3 separate regions of the Homo sapiens genome follow, and all the other regions are linked to region 1. The links come from fine-mapping of genetic effects on gene expression. A gene starts in region 1. Each other region holds a variant in brackets. All regions are shown on one strand. Distances are from middle to middle. Region 1 holds the start of ZDHHC6 (zDHHC palmitoyltransferase 6). Region 2 has its middle 24 kb from the start of ACSL5. Region 3 overlaps ACSL5 (acyl-CoA synthetase long chain family member 5).

Evidence for each region. PIP is the estimated chance that this variant, and not a neighbour inherited with it, causes the effect.
Region 2: its variant is the best candidate, but not a certain one, in a credible set for the expression of ZDHHC6 in nasal epithelium (TOPMed, PIP 0.75).
Region 3: its variant is the best candidate, but not a certain one, in a credible set for the expression of ZDHHC6 in adrenal gland (GTEx, PIP 0.59).

The regions. Positions count from the first base shown.
Region 1 is chr10:112,441,736-112,452,017 of GRCh38, forward strand. It overlaps ZDHHC6 (zDHHC palmitoyltransferase 6), which reads right to left and starts at 5,179. Exons shown (of 11, transcript NM_022494.3): 1 at 4,970-5,179; 2 at 3,435-3,915; 3 at 1,780-1,871; 4 at 457-616. The coding sequence starts at 3,701. It overlaps VTI1A (vesicle transport through interaction with t-SNAREs 1A), which reads left to right and starts at 5,480. Exons shown (of 8, transcript NM_145206.4): 1 at 5,480-5,732. The coding sequence starts at 5,639. RefSeq lists enhancers at 4,966-5,085, 5,286-5,545.
Region 2 is chr10:112,345,456-112,355,737 of GRCh38, forward strand. It overlaps the pseudogene GUCY2GP. Among named protein-coding and RNA genes, the nearest start is that of ACSL5, 24 kb to the right of the region's middle. The variant A/G (reference allele first, on the strand shown) is at 4,294.
Region 3 is chr10:112,421,670-112,431,951 of GRCh38, forward strand. ACSL5 (acyl-CoA synthetase long chain family member 5) reads left to right here. Exons shown (of 21, transcript NM_203379.2): 16 at 278-366; 17 at 656-772; 18 at 3,669-3,812; 19 at 4,589-4,690; 20 at 5,119-5,190; 21 at 5,549-6,707. The coding sequence ends at 5,689. It overlaps ZDHHC6 (zDHHC palmitoyltransferase 6), which reads right to left. Exons shown (of 11, transcript NM_022494.3): 11 at 8,631-9,238. The coding sequence ends at 9,135. Among named protein-coding and RNA genes, the nearest start is that of ZDHHC6, 20 kb to the right of the region's middle. The variant C/T (reference allele first, on the strand shown) is at 4,730.

The DNA.
Region 1 (10,282 bases):
TCAACTTGATCTCTTGCTGGTTTAATCTGTTTATATTTTATGGTATGCATCTGCTCCATGAGCCACCTTCCAGGGCACTAGAATCAGAAATGAACAAAGAACTACAACTTGCCACATGAATGGGATGAAAGTAGGAAGCACTAGTGTTGTCTTTTTTTCTTCTATTCTTTCCATAACTATTAAGTTTGAAGTCTAACAAATTACATATACAGTACTAAAATATTTATCACCTTCAACTACAGCATGTAAGTTTTCAGAACAAATACTCTTTCCTCATCTTAAAATTTAAGTTTTAATGCTTTCTAAAAAGGAACCCATATACCAGTAAAACAAAGTTCTATTTCCCCAACTAAATCACAGAAAGCATATTTCCAAAAGGAACCTCTTAAATGTTGATAACTACCATTTAATCTTGCATGGATGATTTTATAACAAAACATTTTCATTTTCACTTACCCGATGATAAAGCTGTGTGTACATAGTCATCACAAAAATGAAAGCAGCATGGATACAACCCAGTGGTGCTAAAAGGAGAAACAGTGTGAACGAAGCATGATTTTGGTAACCACAACAGTTGTTGATCCAAGGACAGTGATGGTCCATCTTCATCACACATCTAACAAGAAAAATTTACATAAAACATGAGGCAGAAAATCCTGTCTACTTTAAATAACTTTGGTCTTCAAAAGATCAAGCAAATAGGAATCCAGCATGTCCATGAGCTACGAGAGAATTATACTTCATGGAACAGAAAGAAAAATCTTTATGAGCTTTTAAACAATTAAGTGACTCCTTTTAAATTCTAAACAGCACAGGAAAGGGCAGGCTTTCTAACAGCTTCTGAGGAAAAGATGTCAGCTACAAGTATTTGTTTAAAGAAGTCAGGAGACCCACTGAAAGAGGGTCTCTTTATAATGCTCATTATAAAGAAATGAGCATGGTTCCTGGTTTTCTTCTAGTTTGTAAGTGCAGTGACCCAAGTGACCTACAATAGAGACTCAACAAATCCCTTATAGACCTCCAGTGGGGTTAATGGGCTCAAATAGACACATGTAACTTCCTTCCTGTTCTCATAGTATCCTTTAGTTAATGGATCTCTGAGCTAAGCAAGCTAACTCCAGAATATAAGATATGGTATAATAAACAAAGTCTTGCCGTGTACTGTTGATAGAAGACAATGTTTTGGCCTGAAACAAAACTTTATTTGCTTTCAACGGTTCTCTAAATTTCTTACTAATCAGTGATTATAGCTGTTCATTAAAAAAGGTCACAGGTTATTTCATATTTTTAATAGTCAGTTTTCTTCTAAGTTTTTGATATTAAAACATTTGTGATAATAGGCACCTGGATTATTAGATGTGTATAAAGTGTAAATGTTTGTCAATAAGTAATGGGAAAAGCAGATCTCCCTTATAATTTAGACTCAGAACAATTCTAAAGTTAGTCCAGATGGCAGCTGACTAACACAATTAATCTTGATATATGGAAACAAACTTAAGGTTTATACCTTTTTCCCTTGTTCTTGTAGGACAAGAGGCAAAGTAAATCTGTATTTTTCTGGAAAATCTTTTCACTTGTAACAAGGAAGAATTAAATCTATTTATTATCTAGATAATTTAAGTATAAAATGGCGATTATGGACACAAGTATTCTGACAATATTGTTTATAATATGGTAACCTTGCAGTGAATAGAAGTAGCACTAATGTAGTATAAGCAACAATGAAAACATCAGTAATTAGTTGATCAGTCCTCGCTGAACAGCAAGAAAGACAGGTACCTGTTACACTTTCTGCAGTGATGTGAACGTGGTGCCTTGTATGCTTGGCAGACTTTACAATACTGGAGATACATGGTATCCTGAGAAATTTCCTTGGCAGCAAAACAGAAACAAAAATGCATCATCGGATACTTGAATATAAGTATGATTCCTACGGTATGATTTTCTTTTATGGGCGATAGGGGAAGGAGAGAATCTTAACTTGCATTTCCAGTCCTCTTATTTGAGCTAAAATATTTTTAAATAAGTTTTCTGGTAAGAGCAGCATCACTTTCCCAATTACCCAGAAGTCCTTTTAAATTTTTCTTCCTTGTGCTCCACCTAAATTCAGTGTCACTAGTTGGTTCTACTTACCCCAAATCTTAGTGGATTCAGGAGTTCAGAAAAAGGTAGCTGACAACTTAGCAGGTATTTTAGAGTGAGGAGTTAATCGTGAGTTGATAGTCCTACTGAAATCTGCTCCCTCCTTGACATTACCCGTCACCACCCCTTTCTTGGGCCATTTTAATCACTTCCTAACTAGTTTCCTTTACTGTAGTTTTTCTTCAGCACAAACCGTGTATTGTCAAAATAATATTCCTATAATACACCTCTGACTGTGTCAGACTCTGCCTGAAAACCCCTACAACTTTCTATGGTCTACAATTTCTCATGTATTTAAGACTGTCACAATCTGCCTTTGTTTCAGCTGTCTCTGCCCTACATGATCTTTTCCCCAGTCACACAGGGCTGTCTACTGTTTCTGAATACGTGGTCCCACCATTCTTTCAACCTGAAATGCCCTCTTCCCCATCTCCTTTGGAAATTCCCACTCCTCCCTCAGGTCCCCAACTAACAATGCTCAATTCTTCTAACTTTAACAGCACCCATCACGTTCTACTTTATAGTTTAGTGATTTGCACAAGTGCGTTTGTTTCTTGCTTAGGTTATAAGCTCTTTCAGAGTTCAAATTACATCTTACCCTCCTCTGTACGCATTTTGAATAGTACATAGCACATGATATACACCAGTGCTTCCCGAACTTTAATATACCTAAGCATCACCTGGGCACTTTATTAAAATAAAGATTCTGCTTCAGTATGTCTGAAGTGGAGCCCAAGATTCTGCCTTTCTGACAAGCCATCAGGTGTGGTCCCTTAGCAGGAAACATGGACATTCATAAGCATAAATTTCCCAGTAGTTTTTAAGCTATAAATGGATTTGGACTATACTTCCCAATGTTATATTTTCAGTGCAATGATTTTAAAACTTTATGATTTAAACCAGCAGTTTCTAAAGCGTTTTTCTCAGTTCTAAGGGATGTTAATGTATTACATGAAAAAAGGTACTACAGCCAAACCTCACTGTGTATGACATGTGATGTTTCCTAAACTTTTGACCATGAACCTATCCCACCTCCACCCCACCTCCATCTTTTTTTTAATGCAGAGCAAATATTCAATAAAATTGCTTTGGAAAATGCTATTTTGGATCAATGTGTTCAAACAGATATGAAATAAAGTCTCCGAGCCTAAATGATCAGTGATTAGAGTAATATACTTAGTCTCTGTGAGGACAAACAGTAGGCTGTGTTTGGTATTATTGGTTAGTAGATAAGGCAAAAACCAAATATACGATTATCATTAAAGTTCATTGTCTTACAGAATCTTTCTTACCGGTTTCCACCCCAGAGGGACAAAGCCCGGACCGACAAACATGGCATTGAAGTAATTATAAAGAATCATGACAGTCCAATTTATCAACATGATGAAATTCACACTTCCTCCAGTTGTATGTAAGGGCCAATACCACAACACAGAGTCAATCATGGCCATGGTAGAACATATTGCTATAACACCAAGGGCTATGATGGGACCCCAGTGACACAGTCTCTTTAATTCTTGTAGATTTTCAAACTTGATAACCGAACAGAATGTACCCATTTTGGCAAGGAAGAATGCCTTCCTACTTTAAAAGAATTATAGATTTCCTTTTTCTGTGCGCACATTTCCATGTGCCACAAGTCCATGTGTGTTCTTTAATTGTCATGCCTTCAAGCTGTGAACTGTTAACGCAGATTACACCATTTTCACTGTCAGGCACCCAAAGCTCTTTATCTTAACTAGGAGAATCCAGTGTCTTGGTCTGAAACCCAACCTAAAGAAAACAAAATGGGAAAGTTCAGTTAAAACAAAACAAAACAAAACCTTTATTGCATACCATACTTGTTAACTACAATAAACACCTACACAACAGCATCTCACAAGTGCACTACACTTTGGGATGCATATCTTGTCAAATGTCAAAAAGAACTACTTTTGACTTATCCAAAATATGGTACAAGTTTGAATGGCATGCAAACTGGATACACGATTCCAAAATAGTTTTTTTTATTCCTTCTCCGCTTGTCAGGGGACTGTCACCATCCAACGCTTAGTGAATAGTTTGAGAAGACAAAGAATTTTAGGACCTTAGAGTTGATCTAATTCAGTTTCCTTCTTCATAGAACAGAAATTGTCTTAGAGAGGCTGAGTGATTAGACCAAGGTCACAAGTAACAGGTGAACCAGAATAGAAGGCAAGTCAACGACCTCCCTTTATGAAATTCTAAGCTGCCTCTTATGAAGTCTTGAATTAAGCCAAGTATGAGTCAGACATGGTCTATGCCATTTGCCTGCAGTCTCCTCCACCCCGCCACCCAAACATCAAGAGAACAGTCAATTTGGCCCAAAAGTAAAGGAGCGACAGTGAAAGCAAAGAGAGCATGCAAGGAAAGGAAGGGAGGAGATAGAGCGAGAGTGTGTGTGGTGTGTGTGAAATTATGACCAGAAGAGTATATGAGAAGAACCTGAATTAGAAGATTCGAGGGAAGAAAGAAGAGGAAGTGCCTCCAGGAGCGAGGGAAATGGAAGGCAGGGCGGCGAGCTCCGGAGAGATTTGTGGAAGGGCATCTCTGCCTGGACTGGATCTGAAGATCTGGAAGAGGATCTGAGCTACATGGATAATACAGACTACCACGCAGCAGACGCTGTTGACTTGTGCCTCAGTTTCCCGCCCGAGTCATGGAGCAGAGGGCTTAGAAATAAATCCTCACCCAAGGAAGAAATATCCTGGTAAGCCAGGTTGGTCTCAACATTCAGGAGAGCCTGCTCCCACTCTGGTGGGACAAAGACCACCAAAATCGTGCTTATATTCCCTGCCTTGACTCCCACCTCAGTGTGGTCCCTGGTGTCTGCTCCTCAGCCATCGCATATCCGGGGCGGCCTGGGCTCACCCGGAACAGATTTTTTCCTCCTTGGATGACTCCGTCATGGACACCTCAGCCCAGGACAAGCAGAGAGCAAACCCTGGCAGCGAGAGGCTGGAGTGCGGGACCTGCTACAAGCCGAGCACCTCTCGGCCAGCGCCCTCGCCAGGACTCTCCCGCTCAGGCCCCCTGCGCAGTCTCTGTTACTGTCACTTCCGGAGGTTCGCCGCCTCAAACCTCCCTCCGGAAGCAAGCTGCTGTGCCTTGTAGCGTGTGGATCCGGAGCCGATTCCCAGAACACGAAGGGGGGAAAAAACGCTTCTAATGATCCCTCAGAACTTGCATATTTTCATACGCTTTTCTGGGGGGAGGCACTAATTGGGGCGCTTTTCCTTTGCGAACTTACTTATCTTAAAGTCGGAGCGGAAAATAAAGCACGCACGCAACCCAATTTCCGGAGAACCGAGATTGCGACGAACAACCAGGAAGCGGCTGGGTTGAGAGCTGTCCCCGGTTCTCCGTTCTGCTCTCGGGGGCACCTTCCGGGGTTCCTAAGCCGCGGGGCCCCTCGCTGCCCCTCGAGGCCCTTTCCCTGACCTAGGCTTTGGCCTGGGCTACTCGTTCCGGAGCCGCCATGTCGTCCGACTTCGAAGGTTACGAGCAGGACTTCGCGGTGCTCACTGCAGAGATCACCAGCAAGATTGCGAGGGTCCCACGACTCCCGCCTGGTGAGAGCCTTGCCCGGCTGGACGAGGGTGCTGGGGAGAGCTGGGAGGGTGCGGGCGGTGGAACGCCGCCCGAGTAAGTGTGTCTATGAGGCGCGAGGCTGGAGTGGGTGGTGCCGGCTGTTCCCAGGAGGGATACGGCTTGGCTTGGTTGAGGGTAAGGAGTCAAGTTCGGGTGTGGGGTGCCGTGAAAAGAGCCTTCGGAATCTGAGCCATCTGAGTTCGAATCCCGGCTCTACCTTCTTGTAACTTGCATAACCTGGAAACGTTTCTTAACGTCTTAAGAGTCTTAATGTTTTCATTTGTAAATTATAGACATGTGAGTATTCAAAGAAAATGAATGAAAGTATGTAGCCTATGGATCTACAATCTACAGCGGCGTTGTTGTGTTAGTAATAATATTGTTATAATTATATGCGGCAAAATAGAGGTAAGAATCAGGGTGCCTAGATTCAAATCCTACCTCTGTCACTTAGAAGTTGTGCCTCTTAACCCGGGAGGCGGAGGTTGCAGTGAGCCAAGATCTCGCCATTGCACTCCAGCCTAGGCAACAAGAGTGAAACTCCGTCTCAAATAAATAAATAAAATAAAAGTTGTGCCTCTTAAACAGACTTCTTAGTCTCTTTCAACTTTCCTTCTTAGTAAATGGGGGAAAATTGTACTTCTCTCATGGGGTTGTTAGGTAGATTAAATTTATATAACATATTTAAAGTCACTTTTGGTGTTGTTAGTTGCTGTATTAGCATTAGTATTTTTCATACCCCCCACCCCCATTTCTTGTTTCTCATCCTTCTTGGGGATTTATTGTATAACCCAGTTTCATGTAAAACTTGGTACAAGATAATTTTTCACACTTAAAAATTTCACATCTCCCATCTGGAAATGTTTTTGTTTTTGTGTTTCCTTTTGTGTTTTAGCACATCTTATTTTCTATGCTAGACTGTCAACTATGTGAAGGTGGGAGCTGTGTCTGATTTCCTTGGCGTTTACTTATTAGGGGCTCAGGAAAATAAGTGAATGAGCAGGTGAATATAAATATGATCTTTTGTAACTATGGTTTGTACAATGTTGATTCGGGGACTATCTTTCTCTACAGATTAGAGTAGTTAGTTACAGAAAAGGGTTTTACATTTTTGTTTAGTTTTGTTAGGGAAATTGAACCATCATCTGGCTGCTAGACTTGTCCCTACCCTAGCTCCAGGATATAAAGTGTAGAAAGGTGGATGTGCTCATTAATCTGCGGATTGGTGGGCACTTCACTTGCCCACTTGTCCTGGTACTAGCAATAATTTCTCCCGGACCTAAGTTGTCATTCCTCTTTCCCTTTCCCTACTTCCCCCAAAACTTATGTGTTTATAAGTAATTTTCTTCCCTTATTTCTTTGTTTTTCTTCCCCTCACCTATTTTCTGTTAATAGGGATATTTGCTTGAAGCCAGGATCTCTGAACTTATACCCCACTCATCTCCTGAAGTCCCCAGTTAGTTCTGGAGGAGATGGATGATGTCTTAAAGAGGTTTATGAGTCCAAGTAAGGGAACAAGAGGAGAGAACCAAGGTAGTATATACCACCAAGCTCTGCTGCCTCAGAGATTTTTGTGTCGAAAGTGGCTGATGGCCTCATCTCTTCATGATACATCACCTCGCCTCTTCTCTTCAGTTCTGCTTTTCTCCACTGCCGGAGATCGTCTTGATTTTTGTTATTGTTGGAGACTACTTCCTTTGAATTGAGTCCCAGAGCCTCAGAGTATCAGGACTTGTGGTTCCAGTTAGAGTTTTACTCATTTTTAATTGTAATTGTTTTAGCAGTAGAAACATTTCTTTGGGTTATTAGTTTTTGTATTGGGAAGCTGTTTTACAAGGTAACAAAATCATCCTTGGATGCAAAGTTGTAAATTTCCAAGAAAACAGATCGTGTTACAATTTTTTTCTTGCCTTTATATTTTAATGTGACAATTCTTAACACATAGAAGGAAACTTTTTGAATTCAGTACCTTAAAAATAAAACTGGGCAGAGCCCGGTGGCTCATGCCTATAATCCCAAAACTTTGGGAGGCCGAGGCAGACGGATCACCTGAGGTCGGGAGTTTGAGACCAGCCTGGCCAACATGGAGAAACCCTGTCTCTACTAAAAATACAAAACTAGCTGGGCGTGGTGGCACATGCCTGTAACTCCAGCTGCTCAGGAGGCTGAGGCAGGAGAATCGCTTGAACCTGGGAGGTGGAGGTTGCGATGAGCTGAGATTGCGCCATTGCACTCCAGCCTGGGCGACAAGAGCGAAACTGTCTCAATAAATAAATAAATTAAAAAAAAACTATGTCTTTCCTTAGCTGTAGTATTATATAAGGCCCAAACACAGGAGCTTCATTACAATTGAAAGGAGACTGCATTGCTGGCTCTGGAAGAATGCTTACTGACTTGTATTATTGAATAATCATAATTCTTTTTTCTTTATGAGATGGGGTCTTGCTGTATCGCCCACGTTGGAGTGTAATGGCGCAATCTCAGCTCATTGCAACCTCTCCCTCACGGCTCAAGTCTACTCCCACCTCAGCCTCCCGAGTAGCTGGGACTACTCAAGCCACTGTGCCCGGCTGATTTTTTTTTTTTGTAGAGATGGGGTTTTGCCATGTTGCCCAGGCTTGTCTCAAACTCCTGGGCTCACGCAATCCACCCACTTGGGCCTCCCAAAGTGCTGGGATTACAGGCGTGAGCCACCGCACCTGGCCTGATCATAATTCTTAAAAACGCAGTAGTTGCCCTCTTAATAATGACTTGTGCTTGCCCCTTTTTAAATCTATTTCCAATTGATGTATAGAAAAAGATGAAAAATATATCCATGTAGTTATGAATTTCAGATGTATGTCTGTAGATGAACAGACATTAATATATATAACCATGGCAAAAATAGTTTGATGACAAGTAATTATAATCTCTCTCTCTGGCCATCATTGGCGAGTGCAGTGTTGAGCTAAAAGTGACCCAGAGGAGGTGAACTATAATTTACTTGAGTTAAGAAGGATAAAAATTGGAGCAAACTTTCCAGCCAAAGCAGTTAATTCCCCCAACATAGTAACTTACTTAAATTCAAGTAGAGTGGGTAGATCTATTGAAATGAACTTTACTCTGCTGTGCATGTTACAATGTATTAAAGTATTGCTTCCAAAGAGAACAGAAGAGTGAACATTTAAAAATTTTATTTTAAGAAAGAAATCTGATTACTCTGTGATATTTTTTAAACAATAAAGAGATTTTGCTCTTAAAGTGTTTGAATCTTAACTAATTTTAGTAATTGAACTGAGATGGGTGAGTTCTTTCTTAATACCCTATGGCACTATATTTGAACATTGTTTTTTTAATTATTATGGTTCTGTGGGAAAGTAAGGAAAAGGGATGAGCAGAAACTATACAGTTAGTACTTTATTGTGAAGTTCCTTTTCCTCTAGTGATGGGAGTGAATTCTTAAGTGGGGAATGTTTTCCTCTGGTGCAAAGATTCTGTTACACGAAATAGGCTTCCTGAAGAATTTTAAAGTAGTCTTTTTGCAATTAGTTGCTTACTTTACCATTCACAGAGAGGGAATGATCTGTTGTGAATCCTGTCACTTTATGGCTGTCCTCAGAATTGTACCAAGAAAGTATTACAGCAAAATGATTCAGATTCAGACATGACATCAGATCTGTTTAGAACCCTAGTTCTGCTACTTACTAGATGTGCAGTCATGGACAATTGCTTGGCCTTTCTAGGCCTGTCTCCTCCATCGGTAGAATGGGGGTGAGAGAGTAATAATTTCAACCTTATAATGTAAAAATCAGTGAAATAAAACATGTAACACACTAGCACCCTTCTTACACAGAGAAAACACGTGATATACTAGCCATTAATGATATTACTGCTGCTGCTGAAGACAACAGTTGGTAAGATTAGCTAGGACCCCGCTCTTCAGACTTTGTCATGTTAATTGAACTCTTAAATCTTACACTTCAATTCTTGCTTCCTTTCTGTTCCTAGACTAGAATTAGGTAAATTTCTCTTGATGAACACATTTGAAAGGAGGTAAGTGATTAGGGCCTTTTGGATATGAATTTGGAACTGGGCTTTGAACTCAGGATCCCAAGGGGGGCAGTCGGAGGAGAGAAGTGAAAGTGGTGTCGGACAAGGCAGGTGTCCTTTCTGGAAGGAAATGCCTGAGTCTAGTGGATTGGTTATGCCAAGCCCTGGAGGATTGTCTAGACCATCTAGACTTAGCCACGTGTAGATGAAGGCATAAACATACTTCTGTGATTCTCTCTTGCCTTTGCAAGGTGGTTGCAGTGAGATAATTCAGAAAAGTTGGCTTTTGTTCATGAATATTGTGGTTTGCTTAAAATATATTTGGCTTTAGAGCTGTAATATCTACGTGTAGCTATTGAGCACCTGAAATGTGGCTGTTGCTACATTGTGAAATGATAATATTTTAGATATATGCAATTACGTATTATTGAAATTAAAAACATTATTAAAACTAATTTCACTTGTTTCTCTTAAAAGTTTTTTATTTTTGAAAACTTTAAAA
Region 2 (10,282 bases), 96 kb before region 1:
GTGTTATCCCTATCTTACAACTGAGAAAACGAGAACAAGAAAGATCAAAGCAGTTGGTCAGCTGAATGTGATTTGAAAGCGGTTCACTCCCCAACCTATACTCATCCCCACCAGGAAAGCAAGAATGAGACTACAACCCATCTTCAGAAGTCTGTGGTGCCAGGGCCCCCATCACAGAGGCTGCAGATGGGAAGTGACCCCGGGAGACAGGTCTCACATTTCTGAATTTTATTCTTGATGGACTCAGTTTGAATGGAACTGCGGGGGAGAATTCCCAGGGGAAAGGGGATAAGGTGCCCAGCAGCCTCCTCTCCTGGTCTGGGCAGGCTCTGGCCAGAAGGATGAGCGAACTGTGGGAGCTGGGAGGTCTTAACCTCAACTACACTTACAGAAGGAAGACAGGAATCCCCATAAGAAAGATGAATTCTGGAGTTCAGTGTGAGGCAGGCCCTGAAAGAGGCCTTTAATTACATGCCCAAGATCTCAAAGCCCCCACCGACTGGAGCCGCAGGTCTGAGTTTAGAACACCCTCCAGCAGTAAGCCACCTACCCTGCACTGTGGTCTGACTGGAACCCTTCAGAGCGCTGACCAGCTGCCACCCATCCTGGAAGTCGCCTCCAGCCTTTACCACCTGCTTCACGGTCTCAGCATAGAGCAGGACGGCGTCGTGAAGGTAGGCAGAGTAAGGGCTCACCTTCAATAAGACAAGCAAAGCAGGGTCTCAAGAGGTTCTTGGCCTCTTGGGTCACCGTCCAGCACTAAATTAGGAGGAATCTCTGTTCCGTCCGCCCGGCAGTGGCACACAGCACTTTCTTCCCCCATCCCACAGAGCAGAGGGTCCAGCATACACCTGCGCCTGCACTATGAAACCCAGACGTCGCAGTCTTCATTTTCCTTCTGAATGCTGCGTTTCCCACTTAGATCTTCTGATCCTTCAGGGACGCTCTTCAGGCCACAGGTGGGAGGGAGCATGGTTTCAGGGAAAGAGGGTACATGCTGGAACTAGACCAGCTCAGCTCCCTACTGGCTATGAGTCCCGAGGTAAGTTCCACAGCCTCTCTGAATCTCAGCTCACTCGTTTATAAAATGGGGATAGGCTGGGCGCGTTGGCTCACGCCTGTAATCCCAGCACTTTGGGAGGCCAAGGCGGGCGGATCACGAGGTCAGGAGTTGGAGACCAGCCTGGCCAACATAGTGAAACCCCATCTTTACTAAAAATACAAAAATTAGCCCAGCGTGGTGGCAGGTGCCTGTAATCCCAGCTACTCAGGAGGCTGAGGCAGGAAAATCACTTGAACCCAGGAGGCAGAGGTTACTGTGAGCCGAGATTGCGCCACTGCACTCCAGCCTAGGTGACAGAGCGAGACTCCATCTCAAAAAAAAAAAAAGGAGGGGGATAAAACTGCTGTTGGGTTGAATGTGACAATAGTTAAATGAGGCATAATAGGTAAACTATCCATTGCAGTCCCTGACCCTTAGTAGGTCTTCAGGACGTGATGTCTTCTATTGGGCAGTCAAGGAAAATACAAGTGCCTACTAAGTGCCAGGCACTGTTCTCCCAACAGTACCAGATACAAAGCTGACACTTAGTAGACTGTTACTCAAATATTCTTTAATTGGTTATCTTGTCTTATATGTTGGGATCCACAATCGGCCCCCTCATTTCTAATCAAACTCCTTGTCATCAGTGGCCTGTGGTCACCTTAGGCTTCAGCTTGGCCCCACACTGGAAGTAGCTCCAGCTCTGGACAAAGGTCTCTCTTCAAAAACTTCTCTGTGAAAGCCAGATACTGCCTCCTCATCACACACATACTGGGATTACCACAGGCGGACCCTCTCTCTCCTGATCATCTCCTCCCTTTTCCAGCCCACCTGCTGGCCCTGACCTGTCCTAGCTCCACATCTCTGACCACTCCATCCTGGGTCTAGGTCCTGGCATCCTCCTGGGGAAGGAAATTGTCATGGTCTGGGTACCCATTAATATCTGTTCTGGGCCAGGCACAGTGGCTCACGCCTGTAATTCTAGCACTTTGGGAGGCCAAGTCAGAAGGATTGCTTGAGCCCAGGAGTTCAAGAGCTGCCTTGGCAACATAGGGAAATCGCGTCTCTACAAAAAAAATTTTTTTTTAATTATCAAGACATGATGGCATGTGTCTATATTTCCAGCTACTTAGGAGGCTGAAGTGGGAGGGTTGCTTGGGCCCAGGAAGTCGAGGATGTAGTGAGCATGACTGCACCACTGCACTCTAGCCTGGGTGACACAGCGAGACCTTCCCTCAAAAGAAGAAGATATATACTTTGCTTCTTCCATGGACAATGTTACTAAATACACACCACCACAGCCTGGGAGGTAGATGCCATTATCAGTCCCATTTCACAGAAGAAGAGACCGAGGTGTAGGGAGGTTAAGCAATTCACTACAAGGTCCTACAGTTAGCAAACAGCAGCAGTAGGATGGGGGCATAGGCCTCTGCTCCAAAGGCCTTTCACCCAGTAACCTCTGAGGTATAAATTCACAAGAGAGCATCAAACTGCTGTTTATTTTGGGCGTGGAAGATGGGGAAGTGCATGTGTGTGTGCACCTGCATGTGTGTAAGGGGGGTAGGGAGAGATGAGGAGAAATAAGAGGGAGAAATGCAAAGGCAAACACAAATATGATCAAAGAAGGGGAGGAGGGAGCCTGAGCTGGAAGACCCGGCATCACACCTGCTCCTCCCAGGAGATGGTGCTGCGGAAGGGCGACCTCCTCGGTGTTTGGTAGACTTGTTTCCAAAAGCCTTCGTCTCCACGGCCTTTTCTGTAGGAGCTGAGGGCAATGAGAAGCAGTGACCCATACACCTTTTGGAGGTGCATCATTTTCTGATTTGTCAGTACTTCCTTCCAAAAACGGTCCTAAAAAGTAATAAAATAAATGTTGTTATTCGGTAGGAAATGCCTTGGCAAGGGCACTGCGTGTAACACAATGTTTAATTTGAACCACTACATTCTAATTCCTGGAAACACAGTGATTCCAGAAGGCCTGCAATACAAGGTCCACATTCTCTAGCTGGCATATAAGCAGTGGAAGGAAAGCCACAAATAAAAAGAAAAAATGTTCCTGGTGCATACAGCTGCTAAGATGCAGAAAGCTTACCTACTAACAATGATTGCAAAAACTTAAAAAGCTTAAGACTATAGATTCTTGCTTTTTTTAAATTTTTTTTGCTTGTGGCATTATCATTATAATCTACGTTACTATTATGAACAGTATATACCCACTCATTATACATATATGTATGTATATATACATATATATGACATCACACTCACACATATATATATATATATGATGATATCATACCATAATGCAGCTTGATTTTTTTCCACCTAAACCTATACTGGGAATAGTTTCATAAAATAGATTTATGCTATTCTTTCATGAAGCAGCATGAATTCAATTGCATAGACATTGGTGTATTCTTAGTTCTACCTTCTTTCTGCCATTACACACCAGTTGGAATGGATCATCAATGTGTGGGAGAAAGCAACAGGGGAGTTGAAAAGTTTCCCTGCCAAAACAATGTGCCTGAAGGCAGAGATGAGAGGAAAAGTGAAGAGAAAGGGAGGCGGTCACAATGGATATCTAGGGTAAGAGAGTGTTCTGGAAAGTCTGGCATGCCTTTAGGATTCCAGCTCCCTACCCAAAGAAATCTGAGATGCTTTTGTGGATCTGAAAGACTTCATGATAAAGAAAGAAAAATCTGGGACATTACTATATATCTCCCTTTATTTTCTTCTGTCCTATTTCAGCTTCTTGTGATTTTTTTAAAAAGCTTATTTTAGAAAGATAAAACTGCTAGAAAAATAATGCACCGTGTCCATAGGAAAAGGCAAGTAGCTTTTGTAGATGCCTGTTGTGTAAGATGCTTACAAGCACAGACACAATAGCCCCCTGTGAGGCAGATACTACGTGCATTATTTCCATGCATCAGTGCACTTGATGAGAGGTAGAAAAGGAGCCCAGGCCACCTGGGTTTGAATGCTAGCTCTCCCTCATACTAGTTGGATGGCCTTGGGCAAGTTTTGGCACCTCTCTGAACCTCAGTTTCCTCTTCTGTAAAACGAGGATGATAAAAGTGAGGTGACAACGTGCTAGCAGCCCTCGCTCGCTCTTGGCGCCTCCTTGGCCTCGGCGTCCACTCTGGCGGTGCTTCAGGAGCCCTTCAGCCCGCCGCTGCACTGTGGGAGCCCCTTTCTGGGTTGCCCGAGGCCGGAACCAGCTCCCTCTGCTTGCAGGGAGGTGTGGAGGGAGA[A/G]TCGCGGGCGGGAACCGGGGCTGGGTGCCGCTCGCTGGACAGCGTGAGTTCCGGGTGGGGGTGGGCTCCGCACTCGGAGCTCCGGCCAGCGCCGCCAGCCCCGGGCAGTGAGGGGCTCAGCACCTGGGCCAGCGGCTGCGGAGGGTTCACCGGGTGCCACAGCACTGCCGGCCCGTCCGCGCCACACTCGAATTCTCACCGCGCCTCAGCTGCCTCCCCACGCGGCAGGGCTTAGGACCTGCAGCTGCCATGCCTCCCCTCCGCCCCCCCCGCCACCAGTGGGCTTCCGCGCAGCCCCAGCGTCCCCAAAGGGCCCCGCCCATCGACCGCCCAAGGGCTGAGAAGGGTGGGTGCGTGGCTTGGGACTGGCAGGCAGCTCCGCAGGCGGCATCCACTAGGCGAAGGCAGCAGGGTTCCTGAGTTGGGTCGGCACTTGGAAAACTTTTATGTCTAGCTAAAGGATTGTAAACACACCAATCAGCACTCTGTCTAGCTCAAGGTGTGTAAACGCACCAATCAGCACCCTGTCAAAATGGACCAATCAGCTCTCTGTTAAGTGGACCAATCAGCAGGATGTGGGTGGGGTCAGATAAGGGAATAAAAAGCTGCGTGGGCTAACAGCGATAACCCTTTTGGGTTCTTTTTGGAAAGTTTGTTGTCTTGCTTTTTGGGCTAAAGTTTTGCTGCTGCTTGCTCTAGCTCTATGTTACCTTTGTGAGCTATAACATGGTGCGAAAGTCTGCAGCTTTACTCCTGAAGCTGCCGAGACCGTGAACCCACTGGGAGTGATGAACGATTCCGGATGCGCCACCTGTAACAGCTGTAGCACTCACTGTGAAGGTCTGTAATTTCACTCCTGAGGCCAGCGAGACCACAAACCCACGTGAAGGAATGAACAATTCCAGCCACGCTGCGTTTAAGAGCTGTAACATTTACCGTGAAGGTCTGCAACTTCACTCCTTAAGTCAGCGAGACCACAAACCCACCAAAAGGAAGAAACTCCAGACACATCTGAACATGTGAAGGAACAAACTCCGGACACACCATCTTTAAGAGGTGTAACACTCACCTCGAGGGTTCGCAGCTTCGTTCTTGAAGTCAGTGAGACCAAGAACCCACCAATTTCCAGATCCAAAATACCCCATGGTGTGGTGGTGGGCTGCAATAAGCGTTAATGTATTAAGCACTCACAGTGAGGCCCAGTACTCCATAAGCTCTCCAGAAGGCAGAGTTGTGTGGGGTGAGCTCAGACTGAAAGGCCCAGTCTGGAAGACTAGGTATGCCACTTGGGAGTGCTGAAATCTTAGATAAGGTACCTTAATTAAGCCTTGGGTTTTTTTACCTGTACATTGGAATAACAATAATATCTACCTTCCAAGGCTGTTCGAAATACCAAATACAAAATGTACAGGCACATAAATAATGCATTTAGGAACTGCCTTGCAAAGCCATTGAGAATATTAAGTGCAATCGTGTGTAAAATGTGTAACTCAGTCCTCATAGTAAGCAGTTGTGTTTTTAGCCATTCTCATTACCAAAAGAATCAGACTGCCTAAGAATTGCTTCGTTGCATCTGTATGTTGGTCTTTCCAGCCCTTTGTTAAAGCTTCAGCAGGGACACGGCGGTAGCTGTGGAAGAAAAAGAAGTGAGAGCCGCTTGTGTCTGAGGGTCCCTTGGGAAGGTCTCAGCTGCCCGGTAGAAATGACAGTAGTTCCTCAACTGTTGTTGTCTGATACGGAATACAGCGGGCTAGGCCTTCAAGCCAGCTGACCTAGTTCATGGCCTGGTTCAGCCTTTCACTAGCTGTGGAGAAGAACTCTGGGCAAGTTCTTCCAGCTCTGTCTTAGTGTCCTAATTTTAAGAAGAGGACGCGAGAGTGCCTACCTCACAGGGTTGTAGTGAGTGCTCAGTGAGCTAATACATGTGGGTCATAACGAGTGCTCCATACTTGCTACCTCTTACTACCAGAGCCATTGAGTGGTCAACGGTACCCACCTCCAACTGCTGCAAAATGATGAAAACAAATTCTCCAGTGCTGAGTCCCAGGTTTGCTGCAGCCAGAAGAATAATTTTTGCATCCTCTGAGCTGCACGTTAAGATGATAACTATAAGAATGAAAACCAGAGTCCGCCAGTTGCACATGCTTGTGTATGTGTGCTTTCTCACGCATGCTCTCACTCTAAGTCTGGCCTAAAGTCACTGTAAATGAGACGTGAACTTTTTCTTTCCTTGGGCATGCCTTAAGAAACAGGAATGCCTAAACTAGTCCCTGAGTTTTTACATTCTTTAACCAAACCTGAAGTGTACAAACTAGCAGTTATAGCACTGAAGTCTTTGCTGCAGCCTCCCCACAATGTACAAGTGAAAAAAGTTTGGGATCACCTCTGTGCTCTAGGTTTTTTTTTTCTTTTTGGCTCAAAAATCAGAACAGCAGACCTGGCTTGTGACTTGTCAGCCACACTTCAGCTAAGAGGAGTTCACAGAGGACCTTTGGACATGTGGACTTTCAAGGGCATTTGGACTTTCTGAGTTGGGCTGGCCGGAGGGAGGAGTAGGCCATGGTACTTTTCTGCCGTTTAATCCCATCACCGTTCATTTTCAGAATACACAAATGAAGTAGTGGGTTTTATTTTTTATTTATTTATTTTTGAGACAGAGTCTGCTGTATTGACCAGGCTGCATGGAGTACAATGGTACAATCTCGGCTCACTGCAACCTCCGCCTCCTGGGTTCAAGCAATTCTTATGTCTCAGCCTCCAGGACAGCTGGGATTACAGGCATGCACCATCACACCTGGCTAATTTTTGTATTTTTAGTAGGGACAGCATTTCACCATGTTGACTAGGCTGGTCTCCAACTCCTGGCCTTGAATGATCTGCCCACCTCAGCCTCCCAAAGTGCTGGGATTACAGGCGTGCGCCAACGCACCCAGCTAGTTTTTTAAATGAAGTAATTTATAGTCTATTTATCTGAGCTCCAATTATGTGTCAGGCACTTTGCTGGGCACAGACATAGCAGTGAACGAGCCAGCAGACAGCATACAAGTGGACAGATTAAAGAGATCATTGAAGATTCTAATTAGTGAGGTTGGAAACGGATGCTGTGATGCTAATGGGTGGGGAGGGGAAACAGCTTCACATCAAGTGGTTAGAGAAGGCCTTCCTGAGGAGGTGGGCTCTGGACCCAGTCGGCAAGGATGCAAGGATGAGAGGACGCTACCCTTAAGAAGGTGCTGGGTAGGGTGGAATGTGACTGAGACCACATAACAATTGCCTCATTGGATCAGTGTTGGTCTTTCAAGCCCTTTATTAGAGATTCAACAGGGACACAGGGAGGTAGCTGTGGAAGAAAAACAAGTGAGAGCCACTTGTGCCTTAGAGTCCCACATTAGCATCACTGGTTGGAGTGGGTGCAGGTGACACCCTAGGCCAAGGGAGTAGAAAACCCTAAAGTCTCAGGGCTGGAGAGAGTTCAGTTTATTTGAGGAACAGAAAGGAGTCAGTTACTAATTCATGCTAGAAAGTTGAGCCTTATAGGCATCACCACAAAAATAATTGCTGTCATATGTTGACCAACTACTTGTCCAGACATGGTGCTAAGCACTTTACAGGCATAACCTTATTTAATCCTCCCCTTTCTGTGACATAGGTAGGATGGTTGTCTCCATTTTATAGAAAAGATATTTGAGATACAGAGAGATTAAGGTACTTACCCAAGGAGGACACAGCTAAAATGTCAGAGACTGGATTCAAACCTAGGTCTGTCAATCTGCAGAGCCCATGCTGTAAACAAATAGTGAAGTCCAGGACCCAGCCCACCTGTAAGATGCTTCTAGAACTTGCGCTGTGTATCATAACACTGTAGCATGTGGGGTTTTACTTTAGACCAAAAAAAAAAACCCACAATTTTTTGTTAGTGATGTCAAGCAATAAAGGAAGTTGCTTTTATATATTATTAATTTTGTACCTTGTTTCCATCTGCTTTTACACTCATAGAAAAGTGAAGAGTTTTTTGGGTTGTTTTTTTTTTTTTCAAATCTGCTTGTCCCATTTTTCTCTCCAAATAAAAGCAACAGAAGACTTTTCTACTTACCCCTGGCAATTGATGATATCCTCCAAAGATGCTCTTGAAGAAGGACTAGACTATTGTTGGTGTATCTCATGCTGGCAGTGATGATAAAATGGGATTTGAGTTCATTCTCTACAACCCTCCACAGTTCATCCACTCCATCCCAGGAGGAAGCCCCAGAGTAGCCTCCAAACATCCCAATGTGTTTCCAGCCCAGGTACTGGAGACTTTCCTGGAGCACATCACCAATGTCCTGCTTGGGTGACACAAGTTTCACACAGGTGTCAGACAGTTTTGTGGTTTGTCCAACAAAGTCAAACATGGGGTGTTCCACTCAGAGGCCAGCAAGCCGATAACCTTGAAAATAACCCAAAGGATGTCTTTGTATAATTGAGTTTATGTACACGCAAACCCCAGTGTGAGACATCTGCATAAACGTCAGATTCTGTGAGTCTGTGGGTCATACTGGGCCCTCGCTTTTGTAATGTTGATGACAACGTCAGCCTCATAGAACAAAGATAACGAAAGCGAGCATCAATTGAGCACTTACTCTGTGCCGAGCACTCTAGGAGCTTACATGTGTCATTTCAACTTTCACAACATTTCTAGGTATTATTACCCCCTCTTTAAGATAAAACAGGAAGACACAGAGATGTAAGTTACATAGCTAGCAAATAGTGGAGCAGGGTTGGAAATTAGGTAATATGGTTCCATGGCCCACAGTCATAACTACTCATTCTCTCTTTCTTAATTTCTCCTTTATTCATTTTTCATTCATTTTAATTAGGGGCCTATCACATATAAAAATCTTTGGAGACCTTGCTCTTGAAGGAGCTCATGGTTTATTACAAGAACCAAGGTATATAAAAAATAGCTTTAAGATTAAATATATTCTTTAAGATGCATAGATAATAGATTTATAGGCATTTAGAGAAGTAAACAATTACTTTCGATTGGGGAATTAGGGATAAGGAGGGCAGAGGTGAAGGGATAAAGAAAGGCTCCATGACATTTGATATTAACTCTTAGACAAGTAACCCTTGAACAGATAGAAATGTGTCAGATGGGGAATTCCAGGAGAGAATGGGTCCAATTTAAATGTAAACTTAATTCTGCAGCTCCAGCTAATGATAGTTCTGCAACATTGTTGAGAGTAAGACCTGTGCTGCTCCTTCCTGTTCACCTTTTGCATCAACACTTTTCAGGCGACATGATACTGAAGGACACCAACAAAGTTCATCCCAACAACCAAACAAATACAAGTCATTCATTTCCCTCATTTTCTTGCTGTAGGTAAGGTAGGCTGCCATACTTGATTCTTTCTCATTGACTTGCATTATCACTGATTAATTTATTATATACGCCAAAGAAAAGCCTACTCAAACAATTGATAGTTTTCTATTTAAAACCAAGCATTTGTTTCTTCTTCTTCTTCTTTTATTTATTTATTTATTTATTTATTTATTTATTTTTTGAGACGGAGTCTTGCTGTGTCACCCAGGCTGGAGTGCAGTGGCACAATCTCGGCTCACTGCAAGCTCTGCCTCCGGGTTCACGCCATTCTCCTGCCTTAGCCTCCCGAGGAGCTGGGACTACAGGCATGCGCCACCATGCCCGGCTAATTTTTTTGTATTTTTTTTTAGTAGAGACGGGGTTTCACTGTGTTAGCCAGAATGGTCTCCATTTCCTGACCTCGTGATCCACCCTCCTTGGCCTCCCAAAGTGCTGGGATTACAGGCGTGAGCCACTGCGCCTGGCTGCATTTTTTTCTTCTTAATTTTCCTAAGCTTTGTAGCTTAGGAACATGAGAGTGAACTATAAGAGTCTATACACAATAGCATCAACTTCAGACAGTCAACAAGAGGAGGAAGAGGGTAGGTGAATAAACAATTATTGATTTGAAAGGCTTTCTGGCCATAT
Region 3 (10,282 bases), 20 kb before region 1:
GTCCTCCATCTGCTGGGCAGGAGGTGCCATGGTTGGGAGAAAGGTTCTAACTGAACTAGGACTTTGGAGTTTAGATAACTTCAGTTCTCTGGACTAATGTGGCAAATGCAAAATTCAAGTTTTGGGTCCAGGCCTGCCTATCTTGGCTAGTCTGCATTGGTGCCAGGTGATTTTTCAGTCTTCCTCTTCTAGAGTCAATTCATAAATATCTTAGAAATGTGCCTGGAATTATCACCATGCAAGAGTTTCTCAGCTAATTCAGCACGGTATGTTCTAGGTCACGTTGGGGTGCCCCTGGCTTGCAATTACGTGAAGCTGGAAGATGTGGCTGACATGAACTACTTTACAGTGAATAATGAAGGAGAGGTGGGTAGGTCATGCCCTGTGGTCAGACAGTCATGGTGGGGAGGTTTATATCAGAAAGAGCAAATAATTGTAAGCAAACTTGGATTTGGCCCCTTTGAGATTGTTAGCAAAGAATTAAGCATTCTGAACTTCACTTTCCTATCCCCTATAGTGGAGACTTAGATCTGGTGCTCTTCACAGTGTAGTGGAAGCCATCAAATGATTTAAGGGGAGCAGGTGTTTCATAAACTGCCCACGCTGGGAGGAGCAGCCTTTGCTATTGTCACCGCCTTGTATGTCTGCTGTGCAGGTCTGCATCAAGGGTACAAACGTGTTCAAAGGATACCTGAAGGACCCTGAGAAGACACAGGAAGCCCTGGACAGTGATGGCTGGCTTCACACAGGAGACATTGGTCGCTGGCTCCCGGTAGGTATATCATCAGAACTCCTGGAAGTCTATGCTAATGGACTGAGAAGAACAATCTGCTTATAGCAAGAGGTGCAGAAATGCAAGTAGGTTAATCAGCTGAGGCAGCTGGAGGGGATTAGGTTTGTACCCTACCTGGCTTATGACTTCCTCATACTATCCAGAGAAGAACATACAGACTGAGGTGGTGGATCACCTGAGGTCAGGAGTTCAAGACCAGCCTGGCCAACATGGTGAAACTCCGTCTCTACTAAAAATACAAAAATTAGCTGGGCATGGTAACGGGCACCTGTAATCCCACCTACTTGGGAGGCTGAGGCAGGAGAATCGCTTGAACCCAGGAGATAGAGGTTGCAGTGAGCCAAGATTGTGCCACTGCACTCCAGCCTGGGTGACAGAGACTCTGTCTCAAAAAAAAAAAAAAAAGAACATACAATTGAAAGAATCTAGGTTAAGTTAAAAAAAGGCTGGGCATGGTGGCTCACACCTGTAATCCCAGCACTTTGGGAGGCCGAGGCGGGCGGATCACAAGGTCAGGAGATCGAGACCATCCTGGCTAACACGGTGAAACCCCGTCTCTACTAAAAATACAAAAAATTAGCTGGGCGTGGTGGTGGGCGCCTGTAGTTCCAGCTACTCGGGAGGCTGAGGCAGGAGAATGGCTTGAACCCAGGAGGCGGAGCTTGCAGTGAGCCAAGATCACACCACTGCACTCCAGCCTGGGGGACAGAGCGAGTCTCTGTCTCAAAAAAAAAAAAAAAAAAAAAAAAAAAAAAAAAAATATATATATATATATATATATAGGCTGGAAGTCATGAGATTTGTGTTCTGGTTGCAGCTCTTCCATGGATCAACAATATAAAATTCTGAGAAAGTAATTTAACGTGTGAATAGGAGCTGCCAAAGCTAGAAAGTCTTTCTTAAAAAAAAATTTTTATAGAGATGGGGTCTCGCTGAGTTGACCAGGATAGACTCAAACTCCTGGCCTCAAGCAATCCTCTTGCCTTGACCTCCCAAAGTTCTGGGATTGCTGGTATAAGCTACCACACCAGAAGTACTGCCAGAGTACTTTTGGTATTTTGATCACACTGTTACAGAAGACACCAAGATGTAGACCAGTTGAAGTGTTTTCTTCTTGCCTTATTCCTTATCGAATATACAACCAGCAAGCAGTAAGTCAGTGATCCTAGCACTGTTTTTAGACCCAAACTGAAGGTGGGATTCTTTAACAGGTCAGGTAGACCTGCACATCAGAGTTGGCATGGGTCCCCTGCAATGGAATAAATTTGCTACCAGCCAGGGAAAAATTAGGTGACTTCTCTAGGAAAGGGGAAGGGAGATGTACTACTCTGTCCTTTTTTTTTCCCCCTTAACTTTTCTTGAGGCAGAAGTTGTGGTTTGAAGCCAAGTGTGGCAGCTCACGCCTATAATCCTAACACTTTAGGAGACTGAGGAGGGAGAATTGTTTGAGGCCAGGAGTTTGAGACCAGCCTGAGCAACATAGCAAGACTCTGTGTCTACCAAAACAAAACAAAACAAAAACCCAAAAAACTTTGGTTTGATAATGCCGTTGGTCCACAGCTTTTGCCTCTTATGAGTTTCTTGGGATAAATATCCTCCCTATTAATTCACAGGCATATCAAAACAAGGAAGAAGGATTTCTAAATCAAGTGTTTGCAGAGGCTAGTGTTTGTCTCTCATTGACCTTCACAGCCCCTTTCTGTGGAAGATACAGAGACATATTTTTAGCATAGCTTGATAATTAGCAGTAGTTGCTATTAGTTTTCCTAAGAAGAAAGGAAATTATTGCAAGGGCAGTGATGGGATTTCCCAAAAGATCTTCCCTCTCAAAAGTTTTGTCTTAACTATGTGCTGGGGAAGTGGGAATGTCACTAGAACTTAAAACTCCTTTCTTGCTCAATCAATATTTAAGATTTAAGTGAGATTTAAGGAATGCTTGACAATGTAACTTTTAAGAACACTGGTCCTAACGATGCATTTTATTGATTTGGGTTTGGTAGTATCTTGCTAATATATTTGTTTCTGTCTAGTAACAGAATTAAATAACACTCTAATAAGCCTAGGATGTAAGCAACAGATATGTCCCCACACCAGGGTTATAGAAGGCTGCACCTTATTAATCACTTTCAGATAATGAACGTTAGGCTGAATTGATGGCTAATTTATCAAGTCGGCCTTGTGATAGTTCCAGTGTTGGTTTAGTTAGTCGCCCTACTTAGGGTGTTAGCATGTGGATTTTATTTGCCATTTGTCCCAATTCTACAATTCAAATCCCTAAAGACCTAAGCTCCTCAGACCAATTAGTTCAGAGAAATGAAGCTGCAAATGACCTTTGGTGGCTGGTCAGAGTCCTCTCAGCCCTGTTGCTGTCCTAACAAGCCCAGTAATTGAGTTGCTTGATTAGCACAGTGGAGCTGTTTGAGCCTGCTCCCGGATCTAACAAGGAGGAAAACATAACAGGGAGTCAAGTGGTGGGAGAACTATTCAAATCAAATCAAAAGTCTAAACAAAAGACAACACCTCTATTTCTGAGAGTTCTGAAAATGAACTAATTGGAAATTAGTGATTGGAAATTGAGAGCTGTGCAATTTCTTCCTTGGATGAGGCATCAATTTGCATAACTCCAGTAGATCCAGGAGACTTTCTCTAAGGCTGCGCATTGACTCTCCACATAGATATACAGTAAAGACAGGTTCTTGCTGCACGATGCTTCCCTCCCCTTTCACCAAAGCCAAGAAAGAGAAATGAAAGACAGCTCAAAAGTCTCTGGAGAAATCAGCTTTAGAGAAGAAAGATGACTGTGACTTCACCACTCTCCCCACTGATATCATCTCTGTGGCTCAAAAATACTGATACTTTTATCTGTCTCATGTAGAATGGAACTCTGAAGATCATCGACCGTAAAAAGAACATTTTCAAGCTGGCCCAAGGAGAATACATTGCACCAGAGAAGATAGAAAATATCTACAACAGGAGTCAACCAGTGTTACAAATTTTTGTACACGGGGAGAGCTTACGGGTAATATATCATTTTAACAATAGCCCATTTCAGTCACAAACCATGCTGGTTCTTGTAGCTACAGGAAATTTGTATAGTTGGGTTCAGAATGAGAAGATCCAAGCTTATAAAACTAAAAAAAAAAAAAAAAATGAAGTTACATTCCAAACCTCAAATAAGGCAATTTCAATTTAAAAAATTTCAAAACTATGATGGACGTTGTACACAAGTCAGTAGAATTGTTTAGAATGGCTATACTAAAAGGTAATGATTCAGTAAAAAATGAGCTCCACATTGCACTTAGTTCCCATTCCTTAAGGAGTTCCTTAAAGCTATGTTTAAGAGCAGTATGTATAAAACAACAAACTGTTGCAATATATATAAAGCAACAAACAAAAGTTTGATCAACAAACTGTTGTTTTATACATACTATGCTTAAACGTAGCTTTAAGGAACTCCTTATCCCAAAACAACGAACTGTTTTATACACACTGTGCTTAAATGTAGCTTTTAGGGGACAAGGGGAGAGTTGACATGGACAAGCCAGAGGCGCTTTAAGCTTAATGTTGAAGGATCAGATTTGAATGGAACATCTTTGTAATGAGATATTGAGTGGGAAAATGGGATTACAGTTCCATGGTGTTGAAAATATATGGTGAGAAAAGAACACTAGTACTGGATTTAAGGTTTTGGGGAAATAACTATTACAATGACATAATTCTGCTTTATTTAACTACTGGGGGACATCCCTACATAACTTCTCTCATGCCCTTGCACCTTTTATTTCCTTTCCATAGTCATCCTTAGTAGGAGTGGTGGTTCCTGACACAGATGTACTTCCCTCATTTGCAGCCAAGCTTGGGGTGAAGGGCTCCTTTGAGGAACTGTGCCAAAACCAAGTAAGTCTTGCCTAGGAAAGCTTTATGCACACCCATGGG[C/T]CCATCGTGGAGGAGAGGATGCCTCACCAGTTCCTGCATCTGTCACAAGTGGCTGCAGCCCAAACAGACTGAATAGTTTTATGGGACTCGGGGATAGGATGGAGAGTTTAAAAAATAAAACTCTCTTTTCTATTTAAAATAATATGTTCATTGTGGGAAAAGATTGGGAAAGAAGAGTAAAAATGCTATTCAGAGAAAACTGTTAACACTTAGATGTGCCTTTTCTTCTCAGTTTTTCTTTCAATATTGGGCATATAATGTGCTTGTGCATAGTTTTATATTCCTGCTTTCATACTGCATGGCTTTGACAGGCACTTTGAGTTGGTTCATGCTTAGCCCTTCAGGCTTTTTGAAACAGCCATGCTTTAAGTGATGTTTTGTATTCTTAGGTTGTAAGGGAAGCCATTTTAGAAGACTTGCAGAAAATTGGGAAAGAAAGTGGCCTTAAAACTTTTGAACAGGTGTGTGCTACCACTGATGTTATACTGGCCTCTTGTCAGAAAGTTTTGTTTAAAGTTTCCATCTAATGAGGTTTAAATGTATAATTTCTAAGGAATTGATTTTAGATTTTGTGCCATTAACTACAAAATGACCTTTTGTAGTTACTTGTACAGCGCCCTTTTTTTGCTGTTTATTGTCCATTCTCCCTTCTCCCTACTCATTACTTTCTTAAATTATGTTTGTGGGAATGGGCATGTGTTACTGTTACCTTTACCCTTTCACTGCATCAACCTCACTTTCTTCACAGAGCACTCAGGGGGCTCTGCAGAGAAGTCCAAATCACTAATGAGCATGGATGTGTGTGTGTTCATCTTCCAGGTCAAAGCCATTTTTCTTCATCCAGAGCCATTTTCCATTGAAAATGGGCTCTTGACACCAACATTGAAAGCAAAGCGAGGAGAGCTTTCCAAATACTTTCGGACCCAAATTGACAGCCTGTATGAGCACATCCAGGATTAGGATAAGGTACTTAAGTACCTGCCGGCCCACTGTGCACTGCTTGTGAGAAAATGGATTAAAAACTATTCTTACATTTGTTTTGCCTTTCCTCCTATTTTTTTTTAACCTGTTAAACTCTAAAGCCATAGCTTTTGTTTTATATTGAGACATATAATGTGTAAACTTAGTTCCCAAATAAATCAATCCTGTCTTTCCCATCTTCGATGTTGCTAATATTAAGGCTTCAGGGCTACTTTTATCAACATGCCTGTCTTCAAGATCCCAGTTTATGTTCTGTGTCCTTCCTCATGATTTCCAACCTTAATACTATTAGTAACCACAAGTTCAAGGGTCAAAGGGACCCTCTGTGCCTTCTTCTTTGTTTTGTGATAAACATAACTTGCCAACAGTCTCTATGCTTATTTACATCTTCTACTGTTCAAACTAAGAGATTTTTAAATTCTGAAAAACTGCTTACAATTCATGTTTTCTAGCCACTCCACAAACCACTAAAATTTTAGTTTTAGCCTATCACTCATGTCAATCATATCTATGAGACAAATGTCTCCGATGCTCTTCTGCGTAAATTAAATTGTGTACTGAAGGGAAAAGTTTGATCATACCAAACATTTCCTAAACTCTCTAGTTAGATATCTGACTTGGGAGTATTAAAAATTGGGTCTATGACATATTGTCCAAAAGGAATGCTGTTCTTAAAGCATTATTTACAGTAGGAACTGGGGAGTAAATCTGTTCCCTACAGTTTGCTGCTGAGCTGGAAGCTGTGGGGGAAGGAGTTGACAGGTGGGCCCAGTGAACTTTTCCAGTAAATGAAGCAAGCACTGAATAAAAACCTCCTGAACTGGGAACAAAGATCTACAGGCAAGCAAGATGCCCACACAACAGGCTTATTTTCTGTGAAGGAACCAACTGATCTCCCCCACCCTTGGATTAGAGTTCCTGCTCTACCTTACCCACAGATAACACATGTTGTTTCTACTTGTAAATGTAAAGTCTTTAAAATAAACTATTACAGATACTTACGTTGTGGTGTTTCTTTCCTCATGGACCATGATGAAAATCAGTCTTAAACAAGGACCCCTTAAAAATCAAGTACAGTATCTGTTCTTAAACTTGGGTACACAATAGAATTATCTAGGAAGTTTAAAAAGACACTAATGCCCAGCACTTTGGGAGGCCGAGGCGGACGGATCATGAGGTCAGGAGACCGAGAACATCCTGGCTACTATGGTGAAACCCCATCTCTACTAAAAATACAAAAAACTAGCTGGGCGTGGTGGCGGGCACCTGTAGTCCCAGCTACTCAGAAGATTGAGGCAGGAGAATGGCATGAACCCGAGAGGCGGAGCTTGCAGCGAGCCGAGATCGCACCACTGCATTCCAGCCTGGGTGAAAGTGTGAGACTCTGTCTCAAAAAAAAAAAACAAAAACAAAACAAAAAAACCACTAATGCCTGGTTGCCACTCCAGGGATTCTGGCTTAAATGGCCGGATACAGCCTGGGCACTGAGATTGTTAAGAAGACCCACAGATGATTCTAGTCTGCGAACAGGTTAGTGAAGAAAAGTAAGTTCTGAAGACCAAACCTTCTTATCCCATAGCTGTAAAGAATAAAACAAATACCAGCTGAGCCAAAACTCCAACTGAGCACAAGTCATATCCATTCTTTTACCATCTTTGTTGTACTCTAATTATAATCTTGAATATTAATAGTATTCTTTTCTGGCCTCCAACTGGAGTTAAAGAGAATGTTCTTGGATGGTCTTTCTAGATTTTGAGCCCAGAAAAGCCAAAGAAATATCTATTCTTAAGGATCTGAAACAAAAGGGTAGGCAGGAATTAACTTTTAAAGTCTAGCTCCCATTATCACTTTAACTTTCTCGCCTTCACTTCCTTTCCTATTCTCCCCTCACGCATTACAGCTGAACCTCACTAGTTACCTTCCTGTTTCTCAAACGTGTCAGACACAGGTCCAGCCTGTTTTTGTTCTTGCTGCTGTCTCTAAAATGCAAATATCCCAAAGCACATGACTTGTCCCCTCATCTGCTTCAAATGCCAACTCAAGACTGTCCTACCTTCTTGCTTCACAATAACATGACTCCATCTTACATATATTTTACCTGTCTGTTCACTGCTGAATTCCCAAGTGCTCTTCCCTTATCCTCAACTATTACAGGCCTGGCCCCCAAAGCTTCACATTCCCTGCCTTGGAAAGGTTTCTGAAGTCCAGAGAAATAGGCTTTCTCTTTCCTTCTGTGATTCCACTGTTATGTTTAGACAAGCCCAATTTAAGCATCCAAGCCCACCAGCTTGGATCCTACCACTCACACAAGCTTCAGCTTTTTACTCAAGGGTACATGAGTAGTTTGATATCACTATGTTTAAAGTCTAGAACACTACTGCCACGGGATCCTTGGGGTGTTGCTTCCCCAGCTGGAATCCTCTGTGGCTGGCAGCCCAAAGTCCAGAGGGGGCCTAGGCGGCAGGGCGCTGGTGTCAGCACCACTCAGAGCTCACGTACACCTGGCCAGGTCCTCACAGCACCCGGGCTTGGCCTCACCTTTGCTCCAGAGCGAGTGCCAGGAGCAGGAAGAGGCCAAGCAGTTGTTGGGGGGGGGGTGTGGGGGGGGTATTTCCCCTCGGCCCCCTAGAGCACAAGGATGCCCGGGTCCGCAGCCACGGCTGGACAGCTGTAGCTACGCTTGGCTCCTGCCTATCACGGCTCCCCCTCAACACCCCTCAGGCCACCACTGCCATCCGCTGCCATCACTATGACCGCAATATCCCATTAATAGGGTTAATATCTTGAAGCAAGTGTGTCATGTCTTAAGCCACGTTTTAAGATGCCAGTTGTCCACAGGGCAGCAGAGCAGTTTTTCCATAAGGAACTAAGATGAACCTTTTTAGTCAGCAAAAAGAAAAATGCTTTAAGTAAAAACTGATTATACCCAACATCCATTGATCTTTATTTGATTTGACAAAATCTGCATTTTTAAAAGACAGGTAACAAAATCTGAGGTTATACTGAATCTGACAAATTGAGTTCTATAGTATCTAGAATATCATATAAGAAATATCAACTGAGGGAAAAGAGAAGTACCACATGCAGATGCTCCTGGCAAGGGGGGAACTGTATCTGCAGGTGAGGTCCAGAGTGTGCAGTGCATAAGAAAATCCTACAGAAAATGCCGTTAACTTACTTGGATGAAATGTTTTTCCTTTGAGGGGGAGGAAGAGGTGGTAAAGAGGGGCAGGAATTCAAAGGCATATGCAGAATGGCTTCTCCATTTCAAAATGGTAATAAAAATATTTAAATCATGGCACTAGGGCACCTTTGAGGAAAAGAACATCTTAACCAGAGTAGGCTCATTGCATAATTCTTTAGTAATATGTACAATTTTCAAGTAATTAAGCAGACTTAAAGGATAATTTTGTTTTAACAGCAGCTATCTATTTTTCTTCTCCCCCTCTGGGGCTTGATCTGTTTCAGCATCACAGGGACACTTTTCCACACATTTTCTAGGGAACCAACCCCTTATTCTTGAAACACCTGAGGGAGAAAATGAAATTGAGGTGAAATAGTCTGATGGATGACAGTGACATTACTGAAAGCAGTAAGTCCTATTACTTCAAATTAATAAGCTTGTAGTTAGACTTTTATTCCCCACTTTGCTATCTATTATAAGCACAGTTTGAAGGGGAAAAAAATAAGATTTTTAAATGTTCATAACAAGCTAGGAACAGGTATTTCCCAAATTTGATGATCCCGAATAGGGACTAATGTGGTTAAAGACAGCTCCTAACTAGAGTCAGGGGGAACTCGGTATGGGTGTTTACTTATATGTGTATGATCAGGAAAGGTGTTTTTGGCACACCATCACACTGTCTTTTCCAGGGAACTATCTTCTTGTAGTCTTTGTAAATTTCCTTTTTAGACTTTTTCTAACATATATATTTCTTTCTTTTTTTTTTTTGAGATGGAGTCTTGCTCTGTCACCTAGGCTGTAGTGCAGTGGCACGATCTCAGATTACTGCAACCTCTGCCTCCCGGGTTCAAGCAATTCTCCTGCCTCAGCCTCTGGAGCAGCTGGGATTACAGGCACACACCACCATGCCCGGCTAATTTTTGTATTTTTAGTAGAGATAGGGTTTCACCATGTTGGCCAGGCTGATCTTGAACTCCTGACCTCAGGTGATCCATCTGCCTTGGTCTCCCAAAGTCCTGGGATTACAGGCATGAGTCACCACACCTGGCCTAACATATACATTTCTATATCACGGCCGTCATAAGAGGTTAATTTATGATTAACCCCAACTATTTTTTAAAGAACATCCCGAGCTAATCTTTACTTTAAAAAGAAACAATTATAAAACTTAAGAAAAAAAAAAACACAAAGTTTCAATCTACTGGTTTTTATAACAACTTAAGAGAAATGCTCAAAGTGGGGGCAGCAAATAGTACAGGGGTTTGGTGCATAGAATCTGGAGTCAGACTGCTTGGGGTTAAGCCCTAGCTCCATCTGTTTTCAGTGCATAGCTATGGGCAAGTTGCCTCTCTGTGCTTCAGTTCCCTCAATCAAATATAAATAATAGT